4 linked regions of the Homo sapiens genome follow. The protein of the gene in region 4 purifies or fractionates together with the protein of the main gene of each other region. This does not show direct contact. Each region holds a gene or a part of one and is shown on either strand. Other genes may lie near its edges.

Evidence for each region. The genes of interacting proteins can lie anywhere in the genome.
Region 1: the proteins of MAP3K21 (region 4) and AGAP1 purify together in Homo sapiens (affinity purification with mass spectrometry, with the first as the bait; one large-scale study listed by BioGRID). This does not show direct contact.
Region 2: the proteins of MAP3K21 (region 4) and RASAL2 purify together in Homo sapiens (affinity purification with mass spectrometry, with the first as the bait; one large-scale study listed by BioGRID). This does not show direct contact.
Region 3: the proteins of MAP3K21 (region 4) and INPP5E purify together in Homo sapiens (affinity purification with mass spectrometry, with the first as the bait; one large-scale study listed by BioGRID). This does not show direct contact.

The regions. Positions count from the first base shown.
Region 1 is NC_000002.12:236,129,668-236,132,293, forward strand, and holds the end of AGAP1 (arf-GAP with GTPase, ANK repeat and PH domain-containing protein 1), read left to right. Parts: 3' UTR 1-2,126; downstream 2,127-2,626. UniProt on the Homo sapiens protein: GTPase-activating protein for ARF1 and, to a lesser extent, ARF5. Directly and specifically regulates the adapter protein 3 (AP-3)-dependent trafficking of proteins in the endosomal-lysosomal system.
Region 2 is NC_000001.11:178,097,104-178,100,603, forward strand, and holds part of RASAL2 (ras GTPase-activating protein nGAP), read left to right. Parts: intron 1-3,500. UniProt on the Homo sapiens protein: Inhibitory regulator of the Ras-cyclic AMP pathway.
Region 3 is NC_000009.12:136,429,846-136,433,345, reverse strand, and holds part of INPP5E (phosphatidylinositol polyphosphate 5-phosphatase type IV), read left to right. Parts: intron 1-66; coding exon 67-191; intron 192-270; coding exon 271-390; intron 391-759; coding exon 760-867; exon of another isoform or gene 868-1,030; intron 1,031-1,360; coding exon 1,361-1,522; intron 1,523-2,228; coding exon 2,229-2,344; intron 2,345-2,932; coding exon 2,933-3,069; intron 3,070-3,500. UniProt on the Homo sapiens protein: Phosphatidylinositol (PtdIns) phosphatase that specifically hydrolyzes the 5-phosphate of phosphatidylinositol-3,4,5-trisphosphate (PtdIns(3,4,5)P3), phosphatidylinositol 4,5-bisphosphate (PtdIns(4,5)P2) and phosphatidylinositol 3,5-bisphosphate (PtdIns(3,5)P2).
Region 4 is NC_000001.11:233,376,224-233,379,723, forward strand, and holds part of MAP3K21 (mitogen-activated protein kinase kinase kinase 21), read left to right. Parts: intron 1-206; coding exon 207-304; intron 305-2,707; coding exon 2,708-3,487; intron 3,488-3,500. UniProt on the Homo sapiens protein: Negative regulator of TLR4 signaling. Does not activate JNK1/MAPK8 pathway, p38/MAPK14, nor ERK2/MAPK1 pathways.

The sequences.
Region 1 (2,626 bases), on a different chromosome or scaffold from region 4:
AAGAAATACTGCCCTTAAATAGACTGTTGAAATATTAATGGCCCCCCCATTTAATCAGTGTGTCTGCGGCTTTCTTCGCGTCACATGTCCGCATTGGCAGGTGATTCTGGAAAGGGATTCTGGGAAACCAACAAGTCTTTTTTAAATCTTTGAGTTGTATGAGAAAGTATTTAAGTTCACCAGTGTAGTAAACACCCACCCCAGAGCAGCGGTAAGCAAACCTAAATCTGAAAACCCATTCTTACTGTCTTTCACCATGAGATGCTGGTTTTGGTGTAAAATGACAGCACTTGGTTTGGGGTTTTGCACCTGTTGGGTAGAACTGTTCTTGTCTGAGGTCCTCACCCTCTACAGATGGGCCTCAGGGCCTGGAGGTGGGCAGATGGGGCCAGAGTGGCCAGCAGAGACTTGCATGGGCTCTGAAAGCCCCAGAGCTCAGGCCTAAGGCTGCTAGGTGAGACCAGCAGGCAGCTGTGGCATCCGACCTTGGGACGCCCAAGCTGGGCAGCCGCTCCATGTGCCCCAAACAGGATATCCTCATGAATGTGAGGAGAGGCTGGCTCAGGGCTTGGTTTTCATTTTGGCCTGGCACAGGGTACCTGTAGGGAGCACTCCCCCAACCTGAGGATGGTGAAACCATATGATAGAGACTCCTTGTCGAAGTCCACATCGGACTGATCTAGAATGCCCCGTGGGGGGATTGCATGGCCTTTGCCTTGAGATGCAGGTGAAAGAAAGGAACCAAACAAGGCATGAGTGTGTTGGGGAATCTTCCCAGTGGAGCAAACCCCCTTAACACACCAGCTGTTGGGAACAGCTGCCCCTAAATCCAATTAAACCCTCATCTCCCTGGTGCTGAACAGTCTACACTGGCCCAGGAAGCTAACGTCTGAGCCGCTTGGAGAGCTTTGGTAAACAGAAGACACTGGAAGCCCACTCGGTCAGCAGCTGGGCATGAGGATGTCAGGGGCCTTTGGACTTGAGGAAGGACAGTCCAGGTGCATGGAATCCTAATGGGCCTCATGCAGACACTGGAAGCAGCCCAGCCCCCTGCCCAATACCACAGCCCTGGGGTGTCCCCTGACATTCCTGGAGGTCCCTGGGCAAATGCATTTCCTGCCTGGGTTCTCAGGGTAGGAGAACAGAGAAGGCTCCAAGGGTGTTGGGAGTGAGCCAGGGGCTGGTCTGGGGAGTGGGTCTCACGCACTGCTCAGGTTGGCACGAGGGACCTCCCCCATCCCAACCCAGCCCCAAGGGTCCCAGCAGGGCTCTCAGCATGGCTGTTTTGAGGGTACACAGGTGGCTGGAGAGGGGTGGGGCAGTTGCATGGTGGGTGGCAAAGTGTGCATTTAGAAGCTGCTTCGTGGCGTTAAGAACGGGGGGAGAGGGACCAGCACTGTAACGTTAGAAATAATTCCTTCTTGCAGACTTGAAAAGCATCAGTTTCCCTCCCACGGCTGGGTTTTTGTGTCTGAAATACATCTAATTCTCCAGACTGCAGCCCCTCTCAGCCCCGAGCACCTGAGCGCTGGGGAGGCCCTTATTGAGCTCAGCCTGGAGAGGGGAGGGTCGCACGGGTCCCGGGGGCAGGTCTCCTGCACTGGCTCTTCCCTTCTGCCAGCTTGGAATTTGGTTCTCATCTTGCCACAGGGGTGCGTTTCCTAAAGGGCAGCCGGAGCAGCTCAAAGGTGACAACTGAGATGCATTTCTAGGCAGGGGCAGGGAAGGCCAACCCACCTTGCAGCCAGTTTTCTGTTTCTGTAAATAGCAGTGTATAGAGATGGAAGGGCAGCGTGGGTGTATCCACAGATGGGTTTAGGTTTTTTTTTTGGATGTTTTCTATTACCTCATTCAGCAACTTTATGTTTCACAATGACTCAATGATGCTTTATTTATATTGTTTGTACTGTAATTAAAACCATTGACAGACATTTCACTTTGCTTGTTATTTCATATGATCTTGTTTTGATTAAATATGCCAGTTTGTATTTTCCTGCCTTGGGATTTTTTTGTGTCCGCTGTACAGTATTCTAAGGGAAAAAGAAAAAGAAAGATGTGTAAAGTAACAGAGAGAGGTGGCTATGGTGTAGAGACCTCTTTCTAATAAAGAAATGAAAATATGTCTACACCGCTTCCGTGGAGTTGTTGTTTTTTGTTTTTTGTTTTTTTTTTTTTTGGTGGCGTTGGTCATTTGTCACAACTAATTGTGTTTCTAAGCCCAGGAAAGGTAAATCAGAGAGAAAAGGGGCTCTGTCTGCTGCGGGCAGGGATTGCCCCAGGCCCAGGCTGCCCCAGGCCCGAGGGACTCAGCACACGAGTTCACAGACGGAATGAAGAAAGAGACCAGGAGTGTCTCTTCTGACTTCTTCCTTTACAAGGACAGAAACTCCAAGAGAATGTTCTTTGCCCAGCCAGGGTTGACTGGGCCCAGAACTTCCAGATGCTTCTGTATCTTTGCACTGTGCCACACTGCCCCAGGTGTGTCGTAAGAACTATTCCCAGCAGGTGGCTAGCAGTAGAACCATCCCAGGACTCTATTATTAAGACCGTTATTATCATTAATATTACTGTAATTTTTGCCTACAAACTACATTATATCTTCCCCTCCAAAAAAAAAAAATGAGAA
Region 2 (3,500 bases), about 55 Mb from region 4:
AGTGTAGTCTAACATGTTTCAGGGAAATCTACAAATTGGGAACCTAGTCTAGAGGATACAACTAGAAGCTTAGAGTATTGGTTTCATTCTGGCTTTGCCACAAGTTGGTTGTCTAATTCTGGGCAGGTAGTTTTAACTCATGGCCTCTAGGTTTCAGCATAAAAGTGGAATCTGGAGTAATTGGTATCTGTGGTCCCTTTTAGCTTTAAAGTTGTCTGATTCTGTGGCTTGGCCCATTATTTTACCTGCAGGTTGGCCTATAATCTTTATCCTGGCTCTTGGGGCCAGGCATTAACCAAGCCCTTAACTTAATGCATTTAAATCATGATTGTCAGGGAATTCTGGGGAGCAGTTTTATCAAAAGGTCAGTGAACTGAGTTTTCAAAGAAGATATATTGAAGGCAGATGTTTATTTATTTGGAATGTTTTCACAAGATAGGAAGATGAGTATGGCGATGTTGCTTAGGTCTAGTTCATCCAGTTTTGAGACCTAACCTACATAGCCATGTGGGTTCTAAAGGTAGGATAATAATAAGGAACTTTATTAAGTGCAATTTGCATCTCCTGCAATATACTTCTGTTTGAAATCATGATGGGAACAAACAACAACAGAAGTAACCCCCCAAAGAATATCTTAACAGGAACTTCTAGAAACAATATTTTATTAGTTTGCCTCACAAAATTTGAAGACTAGGCACTGTTTTGAGTTTCTTGTTGACAGGTTTGGCTCCTTGGTTGATAATACATATATATTGTGTACATATGTATATATTGTCATAATACGTATACTCAGGGTTTTGTGTATTGCCATGATTTGGAAAACTTTTCTGGAATATGTTCAGAGCTTTATAATAGGTGGCTCTATATTTAGAACACAAACTAATGCACATTTTTGAGATGTGGCTGAGAGAAAAATATTTGTGCTGTCTGTCCTAATCTTCATTTCCTTGTAGTTGTAAAATGTTTCATTTGTTTTATTCCAGTATTATAAGTTGTGCCCATGCCTTGTCAAGACTATAAAATTTTTGATATCAGGGAGCCTTGTTTATCTTTGTATTCTTATCTTGCCACCCCCTTCATTGTCAACTTGTCTGCCAGATTGGTACCTTGCTCATAGTAAGTCAGTGTCTGTTGTATGTTGATCCGTTTGTCCTTTGACCATCCAGATCTCAACCTGACTGACTGTATGGGTGGTAGAGTAGCTTAAACAAAGGCATGCCACAAACAGCTAAATATGGATACAGAATCCAAGAGCATCAAATGCAGAACATTTTTCAGATATTTATAGCCTCAAAGCAAAGTCAATTGGCTGAAAAAGCTCAGCAGCATAGCGAAAGGAAACGGGAGTGGCAAAGCCAGCCTCACTGTCTGTGCTTTCTGGTAAACAATGAGAACATTAAAATTAAATACTTTACCATGAATGGATGGGGAGTGTAGGACACTCTGGGAGAAATTTAAGATCCCAATCTCTAGGATTGCCTGCGGTGGAGCTCTGCACTCATCAGTATGACAGGTCTGCAAGTATGTGCTCAGATATGCTCTTGGAGAGTTAGAAGGGAAATATAATCAGCACAAGAAAGGGATCAACAAGAAATCTTGTACTTTTAAATTTTAATATTATCAGAAGGAATTAGGTAAAATATTCTGTTAAGAAAATGAATAGCATCAACATTATTACCATTAAGCTTGTATACAGCTCATTGTTTATTGATAACAACATAGGGACCTGCTGGAAAATTTCAAAGGGCTAGTACTATTTAAGCAAACAGAAGAAAAAGGGAATTAATCATACTTCATTAAGTACCTTATAATTCCAGAAATGTGGCAGTGGGAATTCGGTAAGAATTAATAGAAGTTCATATTCAAGAAGTGAATATGAGCTGATGAGACAGAAGTCATATCTGGTTGTATTATATGATACTGCTTACGCCTCACCAATTAAGACACAGGATGAGATTTTTAAAAGTTACGTTTCTAGAGGTTATGTCTCTAAATTTATTTAAAATGTTGCAACTAGTATGGCTAGAAGAAAATCAGTGAGTGTGTATAAAATACATCCCCAAACATGTTCATGTTCCTTAAATGTCTTAATTTCCTCAGGTACTGTTAATTGAATCTTTACACCTGAGTAGTCATATTTTAGAAATTTTTGGAATCTTAAGCTTGAGTTCAATACTTAGGATGTGGCATAGGCTTGTTGATGTATTAGTTTCCAATGATTTCCAAATACATTAAAACACATTAAGAATAGACAGTTTTTCATTGAAATCAGAGAGAACTTCTAAGAATGCCTAGGCATGTACTGTTTAAGTGACTTTAAATAGCCCCCTTTTTTCTTCTTTTGAGAGAAAATTTGTATGTCTTATTTAAATTGTGTGCTCTATTAATGTAGGTGATAGTTTCATTTATAACATCTTAGTATTGTTCTACCCTCTATCATGTTGGTTCACTGCTATTTGATTTTCAAACAGTGAAAATATTTTTAAGGAATAGAATTATACATCCACAATCTCTTTTCCAAAACCATTTGGACTAGACAGTTATGTTAATATTTCTGCAGTTAAACAAGTGAATAGGCCGGGCGTGGTGGCTCACGCCTGTAATCCCAGCACTTTGGGAGGCCGAGGCAGGTGGATCACTTGAGGTCAGGAGTTCAAGACCAGCCTGGCCAACATGGTGAAACCCCGTTTCTACTAAAGTACAAAGAAATTAGCCGGGTGTGGTGGCATGCACCTGTAATCCCAGCTACTTGGGAGGCTGAGGCAGGAGAATCGCTTGAACCAGGGAGGGGGAGATTGCAGTGAGCTGTGATTCCACCGTTGCACTGCAGCCTGGGTGACAGAGTGAGACTATCTCAAAAAAAAAACAAAATCATACCAAGTGGTATAAAGACTATAAATAGCCTTATGTCAGTGCAGGTCAGACTTTACTGCCAGAAAAGTTGCATACAGTCTTTTGCTTTTCAGAGCTTTTTTGATTTAGGAATTGCAGATATGGAATTGAGGATCTGTACAAATCTTCAGACATAAATAATACAAAGTTCTAGAACACCCCTCTTTAAGAATAGTTTGTGTGGATATCCTTTATCTTTTTCAGATAATAACATTTACTGAACACATTTTTAAAAATGGGCCGGGCGCGGTGGCTTATGCCCATAATTCCAGCACTTTAGGAGGCCAAGGTGGGCGGATCACCTGAGGTAAGGAGTTTGAGACCAGCCTGGCCAACATGGTGAAACCTTGTCTCTACTATAAATACAAAAAAAAAAAAAAATTAGCAGGGCATGGTGGCACATCTGTAATCCCAGCTACTCGGGATGCTGAGGCACGAGAATCGCTTGAGCCCAGGAGGGAGAGGTTGCAGCTAGCTGAGATCGTGCCACTGCACTCCAGCCTGGGCAACAGAGCGAGACTCAGTCTCAAATAAAAAAAAAAAAAAAAAGTTGTACAGTTGTGTTTCCTACTATAGTGAGTGAAATTTCTGTGGTTTGCTAAGAAAAA
Region 3 (3,500 bases), on a different chromosome or scaffold from region 4:
GCAGGTCTGGGGGTGGCGGAGCTGGGAGGCCATGTCCCCCAGCCGGCCGTGCTTCCTCCTCTGCAGGCGGGAGTGGGAGACTCGTCTGCAGGAGACGCTGGGCCCGCACTATGTGCTGCTGTCCTCGGCGGCCCACGGCGTGCTCTACATGTCGCTCTTCATCCGCAGGGACCTCATCTGGTTCTGCTCAGGTGGGCGCGGCTGGAGGGGTGGGCGCGGCTGGAAGGTGGCAGCGTCCCACAGGTGAGCTGAGGGCTGCCCCTCCCACAGAGGTGGAGTGCTCCACGGTGACCACACGCATCGTGTCTCAGATCAAGACCAAGGGGGCCTTGGGCATCAGCTTCACCTTTTTTGGCACTTCCTTCCTCTTCATCACGTCCCACTTCACCTGTAAGTTGCTTGGTGCCCGCACCGCAGGTGCTGTGTGAGAACAGCTTCCTCTCCTGACCGGGACCCTGTCCAAGGCAGGGGTCCTGACCGCTGGCTTCATCTTCCACCCAGGGCCGTGGGGTGGGCACCACGCTTGCTAAGATGCACGCCAAGGACCCCCGGCAGACCCCGGCACCGAGGGCGTGCCGTGCTGGGCCCGTGCTCTGTCCTCCGAGGCGGAAATGTCACTGGCTGGGCCCGGCAGCGGATGCCCGGTGGGGTTGCGTCTGCCGGGGGTGCGCAGTCAGGGCACAGTCCAGAGGTGCGGCGCTTTAGGGAGACTCGAGCATCCGGAACCCTGTGGTCCCTACCCCATTTCTGTTCCCACAGCAGGTGACGGGAAGGTGGCGGAGCGGCTGCTGGACTACACCAGGACTGTACAAGCCCTGGTCCTGCCCAGAAATGTGCCCGACACCAACCCCTATCGCTCCAGCGCAGGTGAGGGCGTCCACGCTGCGTGTGGGTGGTGCCGCCGTGGTTCGCACACGGGCGCCCGTCGTTTTTAGGGCAGTTCTGAAGAGGCAGCGTCCTGAGCTTTGGGAAGCGAGGGCCGAAACGTCCAGTGCCCCCAGCGCATGGCCCCTCGCGGTTCTTTAGCACGGTTAGTGGGGTGGGCGGATCCTGTCCACTCGGCGTGGCCCACTAGCCTGGGTCCTGGTCCTCGCCACTGCCCGCCCCGCCGCCTCCCCTGGCTGTGTGGAGAGGAGCAGGGACGTGGCCATCGCCTGCCATGGGCATCGTCTGCTCCTGAGGCTGCTCCAGGTGCCTTCTGGAACTGTCCCAGTGCGAATCCCACCCCTGAGGGCCCGGCCCCACCGGCTGGCGCCCAAGACCCACTTCCCCTGAGAGCCACTCCCAGGCCATGTTCTGGGGAAGGGGAAGGACCTGCCGTCCCTCTGCCTGTGCCCACACATGGCCCACTGTGCCGCAGCGGACGTCACCACCCGCTTCGATGAGGTGTTCTGGTTTGGAGACTTCAACTTCCGCCTGAGTGGCGGGCGCACAGTCGTGGACGCCCTCCTGTGCCAGGGCCTGGTGGTGGACGTGCCGGCGCTGCTGCAGCACGACCAGCTCATCCGGGAGATGCGGAAAGGTGAGGGCCTGGGGGGGCGGGCATGGAGGGAGATGAGGAGAGGTGAGGGCCTGGGGGGGCGGGCGTGGAGGGAGATGAGGAGAGGTGAGGGCCTGGGGGGCGGGCGTGGAGGGAGATGAGGAAAGGTGAGGGCCTGGGGGGCGGGCGTGGAGGGAGATGAGGAGAGGTGAGGGCCTGGGGGGGCGGGCGTGGAGGGAGATGAGGAGAGGTGAGGGCCTGGGGGGGCGGGCGTGGAGGGAGATGAGGAAAGGTGAGGGCCTGGGGGGGCGGGCGTGGCGGGAGATGAGGAAAGGTGAGGGCCTGGGGGGGCGGGCGTGGAGGGAGATGAGGAAAGGTGAGGGCCTGGGGGGCGGGCGTGGAGGGAGATGAGGAGAGGTGAGGGCCTGGGGGGGCGGGCGTGGAGGGAGATGAGGAGAGGTGAGGGCCTGGGGGGGCGGGCGTGGAGGGAGATGAGGAGAGGTGAGGGCCTGGGGGGCGGGCGTGGAGGGAGATGAGGAGAGGTGAGGGCCTGGGGGGCGGGCGTGGAGGGAGATGAGGAGAGGTGAGGGCCTGGGGGGGCGGGCGTGGCGGGAGATGAGGAAAGGTGAGGGCCTGCGGCGGGTGGGGGGAGGGTGGGCGTGGTGGGAGATGAGGAGAGGTGAGGGCCTGGGGTGCGGCGGCTGGCACAAGCTGGTCTGAGCCAGTCCGAGTGCCCATCCTGTGGCAGGGTCCATCTTCAAGGGCTTCCAGGAGCCGGACATCCACTTCCTCCCATCATACAAGTTTGACATCGGGAAGGACACGTACGACAGCACCTCCAAGCAGAGGACGCCCTCATACACGGTGAGGCCTGCCCACCGCTGCGGTGCAGAGTGCTTCCAGGGCAGGCATCTCCCACAGCCGGGAACCGATGCCTGGCGTCAGGGGTCTGAGCCTGGACGGCCTGGACTTGAAACTCAGCTCTGCACCTTGGCCTTGTGGCAAGTCCCCTTTGGTGGAGAACGGCGCCCTCTCCATGGGTGTTTTCAAGGCTGGGTGAGCCGGCTGGCACACAGGGCACCAGCCATGCCCTCGCCTCCGGCCTGCAGAGCCTCTGCCCTCTGCCCGTTGCACCCTCGCTCACCCTCCTGCCAGGCCCATGGCTGCATCTCTGGGCATGTCCCGATATCTGGATATCTGCTGGAAGCCTCAAGAAGCCACTGAGGCAGGGCAGGGTAGGAGCAGCCGCTGTCCACAGGGTCTCTCCAGCGGCGAGGGACAGGCCCTGGCCCAGCTGGCCACAGACGCCAGGCAACAAAATGGGCATGAGTGTCAGGGGTCCCAGAAGGCTTCCTTGTGGGGGGCGCTTGAGAACAGCAGGGAGGTGAGCGGGCCACGCCCCACGGCTCCTCACAAGTAACTGGACCTCCTGCCTCTGCAATCTTCCCAAAGGACCGCGTCTTGTACAGAAGCCGCCACAAGGGTGACATCTGTCCTGTGAGCTACTCTTCCTGCCCCGGGATCAAGACGTCCGACCACCGCCCTGTGTATGGCCTCTTCCGGGTGAAAGTGAGGCCGGGGCGAGACAAGTCAGTGTTCTCCCGCTCACCTTCCCCCTTGGGCCTGGGGGTCGTGCCGTCGTCCCATGAGCTAAGAGGGTCCCTGTCATCGTGGGGTTCCACTTGGGGCTTTGTTCTGGGACCTTCAGGGCTGTGTTCCCCGGGATCGGTTGGACTCATCCTGGAGCAGGAGAAGGCAGGAAGGGGAGAGGCTCTGGAAAGTGAAGAGAGGCCCAGCTGGGGGGCTGGGTGTGGCCAGCTGGAGGGACGAAGGCCTTAAGCACTCAGGCATCCGCCCTGTCCTTCCTGCGGCTCTGTCCCAGGAACAGGCCTCCGTGTGCTTAGAGGCAGGGCCAATCTGGGCCAGTGCCCACCTAACAGCCCCTCATCCTGGCCCTGGGTGTCCTCTTAAATGCCCCCTCCTCCGGGGCCGGCCCCCTCCTAACGCCCCCTCCTCCTGG
Region 4 (3,500 bases):
CTATTATTTAGTTAAGCAGTTAGAATATTTCTGAGATTTTTCCTGTCTCACTTTCAGGTATTATTTGTACTTTGTCAGCCCTTCAAAACTGAGTACAAATGTGTTCTCTTTACTACCTTAAAAATATTGTTGGTCTGTATCCACCAAAACCTAATTGGTGTGTTGTGTGCTTCTATCTTATGAAAAGAAACATTTTTCTCTTGTAGGATAAGACCTCTCTCCGATGGCAACAGTCCTTGGTCAACTATCTTAATAAAAAATCAGAAAACCATGCCCTTGGCTTCATTGTTTGTGGACCAGCCAGGTAAATGTGTTTCAGGAGGTAGGATTTGCTTGAGCAGTCCTTGGCATCTGATTGTGCTGAAGCTTTGCTTTTACAGTCTTACGTGGTCATTAAAGTAGCAGAGGGGAGATTAGCAAGTAATGGCATTTCTTATAGCTTTACTTAAATTCAGAAGTTATTTTCCGTCAAGTATTTATGGCAGGAAGTAATTAGGCTTCACGTGGTTTTGGGAATTTGTAACTCTTCTTCCTTACCAGAAACATTATTATCACAATTAATTATGTAAAACCAAATCAATTTAGTATGGGAAATATTAGATGTAAAAATATAGACCCCCCTGAAAGTTCTGCTGAGATTAAGGGGTATGGCTTCTTGCTATAGTGCCACCTGTTGACATGAGGAAATCCAATGAAACAGGTTAACTATGAAAAACACAAAAACTAGCCGGCATGGTGGTGCTTGCTTGTAATCCCAGCTACTCAGGAGGCTGAGGCAAGAGAATCACTTGCACCTGGGAGCCAGAGGTGGCAGTGAGCCAAGATTGTGCCACTGCATGCCAGCCTGGACAATAGAGTGAATGAGACTCTATCTCTAGATAAATAAATAAATAAATAAATAAGAAAAATGACTCCTTGGAGAGTTTTACACTGGAATTTCTATTTAATTTAAATGAATCATAATGATTTACTTTCAATATTCTATATTTGTATTCAGTATTCAGTATTAAAAGATTGAAGAGATGGAAATCGTTGAAAAACTTCAAGCACGGTTACTAACACAGAAAATAAAATTGGTCTTTATACTTGACCATTTAGGCAGACTCTTTGGTACTTTGATCAAATTAAAGATGCCTTAGCAAGACACAATGTAAATGTATTGAATTTGTTATTGGTACTGTGCTCAATTTCACAAGCACCTTTGCACTCACTACCTGGGTTCAGCTTCTCCTTCTGAAGGTTCTCCTTTATGAAGGAAAAGGGAGCTTGGGTCAGCAACGTCAGGGAGTGGAAGGAAAAAGAGGGTACCCCAAACAAAAGGCACCACAGGGAAGAGCACAGGGTTCTTTGGAGAAAGAAAGCTGGCACCCCAAATTGTCTACATCAGCAGTCCCCAACCTTTATGGCACCAGAGACCAGTTTCATGGAAGACAGTTTTTCCATGGACCAGTGGGGTAGGGATGGTTTCAGGATGATCCAAGCGCATTACATTTGTTGTGCACTTTATTATTATTACATTGTAATTCATAATGAAATAATTCTACAACTCACCATAATGTAGAATCAGTGGGAGCCCTGAGCTTGTTTTCCTACAACTAGATGGTCCCATCTGGGAGTGATGGGAGACAGCAACAGATCATCAGATCCTAGATTCTCATAAGGAGCAACCTAGATCCCTTGTATGTGCAGTTCACAATGGGGTTCATGCTCCTATGAGAATCTAATGCTTCTGCTGAACTGACACAGGGCGGAGCTCAGGTGGTAATGTGAGCAATGGGCACTGGCTGTAAATGCAAAAGAAGCTTCACTCGCCCACCTGCTGCTCACTTCCTGCTGTGCAGCCTGGTTCCTAACAGGCCACGGTATCAGTCCATGGCCTGGGGTTCAGGGACCCCTGGTCTAGATCATCAAGCATGTTTAGGTATACTAGGATGTAGTGTTGGAAAAAATTAGAGATGTTATTTGGAAATCAGATTAATGAGTTTGTTGTTTAATTATGCGCTGTCACTTTTGTGATAAGAATGTTAGCTTCCTCTTAAGCGGGTATAATTTGTAACCTTTGGGATTCTGTAACCTCTTGGGAGAATCTTCTATTTTAATGGTCCCCAAACTTCAGTAAAGGCTAGCTGAAACACAGACTGCTGGACTCCACTCTTCAGAATTTCTGATTCCATAGTCTGGGGTGGGCCAATAATTTACATTTCTACAAATTCCCAGGGGATGCAGATGCTGCCAGTCCAGGCCACACACTTTGAGAACTGCTGATCTGCTACAGAACAGTTAGTTTATACACAGGAAAGCTGTAGATAATGGAGCCTGATGCATGTATTTAGGTGAAGTGAGGAAAAGAGCACATTTGGTGACATATTTAGTGATTTTGTGCCTATGGTTGTGCGTTTTTGTGTTTTGATGACTGTTTCTACAATAGTGTCTATTATTGAAGCTGATGAAGAACAGCTTCCCGAAGCATAGGAAACAGCAGATGGCTAGCTTGCTGGTTCATCTGCAGGGAACCTGAAGTTGTAGGGCCCTAGACTCTTGCTCCATGGAGCCCTCCTGGATGAATCATTTGCAGAAATGAAAAGGGCTGCATGTGTTTTGATTTAAAATATGTATTTATTATATTTTAGCTTTATTTTACAATCTTGTTTAAATGACTTTTGCTGTAAAATGATACTACAGTGTATGTACTTATACCTTTATTTAGGGTCCTGTGAAGAGCCAAAACTTTCCCCTGATGGATTAGAACACAGAAAACCAAAACAAATAAAATTGCCTAGTCAGGCCTACATTGATCTACCTCTTGGGAAAGATGCTCAGAGAGAGAATCCTGCAGAAGCTGAAAGCTGGGAGGAGGCAGCCTCTGCGAATGCTGCCACAGTCTCCATTGAGATGACTCCTACGAATAGTCTGAGTAGATCCCCCCAGAGAAAGAAAACGGAGTCAGCTCTGTATGGGTGCACCGTCCTTCTGGCATCGGTGGCTCTGGGACTGGACCTCAGAGAGCTTCATAAAGCACAGGCTGCTGAAGAACCGTTGCCCAAGGAAGAGAAGAAGAAACGAGAGGGAATCTTCCAGCGGGCTTCCAAGTCCCGCAGAAGCGCCAGTCCTCCCACAAGCCTGCCATCCACCTGTGGGGAGGCCAGCAGCCCACCCTCCCTGCCACTGTCAAGTGCCCTGGGCATCCTCTCCACACCTTCTTTCTCCACAAAGTGCCTGCTGCAGATGGACAGTGAAGATCCACTGGTGGACAGTGCACCTGTCACTTGTGACTCTGAGATGCTCACTCCGGATTTTTGTCCCACTGCCCCAGGAAGTGGTCGTGAGCCAGCCCTCATGCCAAGACTTGACACTGATTGTAGTGTATCAAGAAACTTGCCGTCTTCCTTCCTACAGCAGACATGTGGGAATGTACCTTACTGTGCTTCTTCAAAACATAGACCGTCACATCACAGACGGACCATGTCTGATGGAAATCCGACCCCAAGTAGGTTGCATTA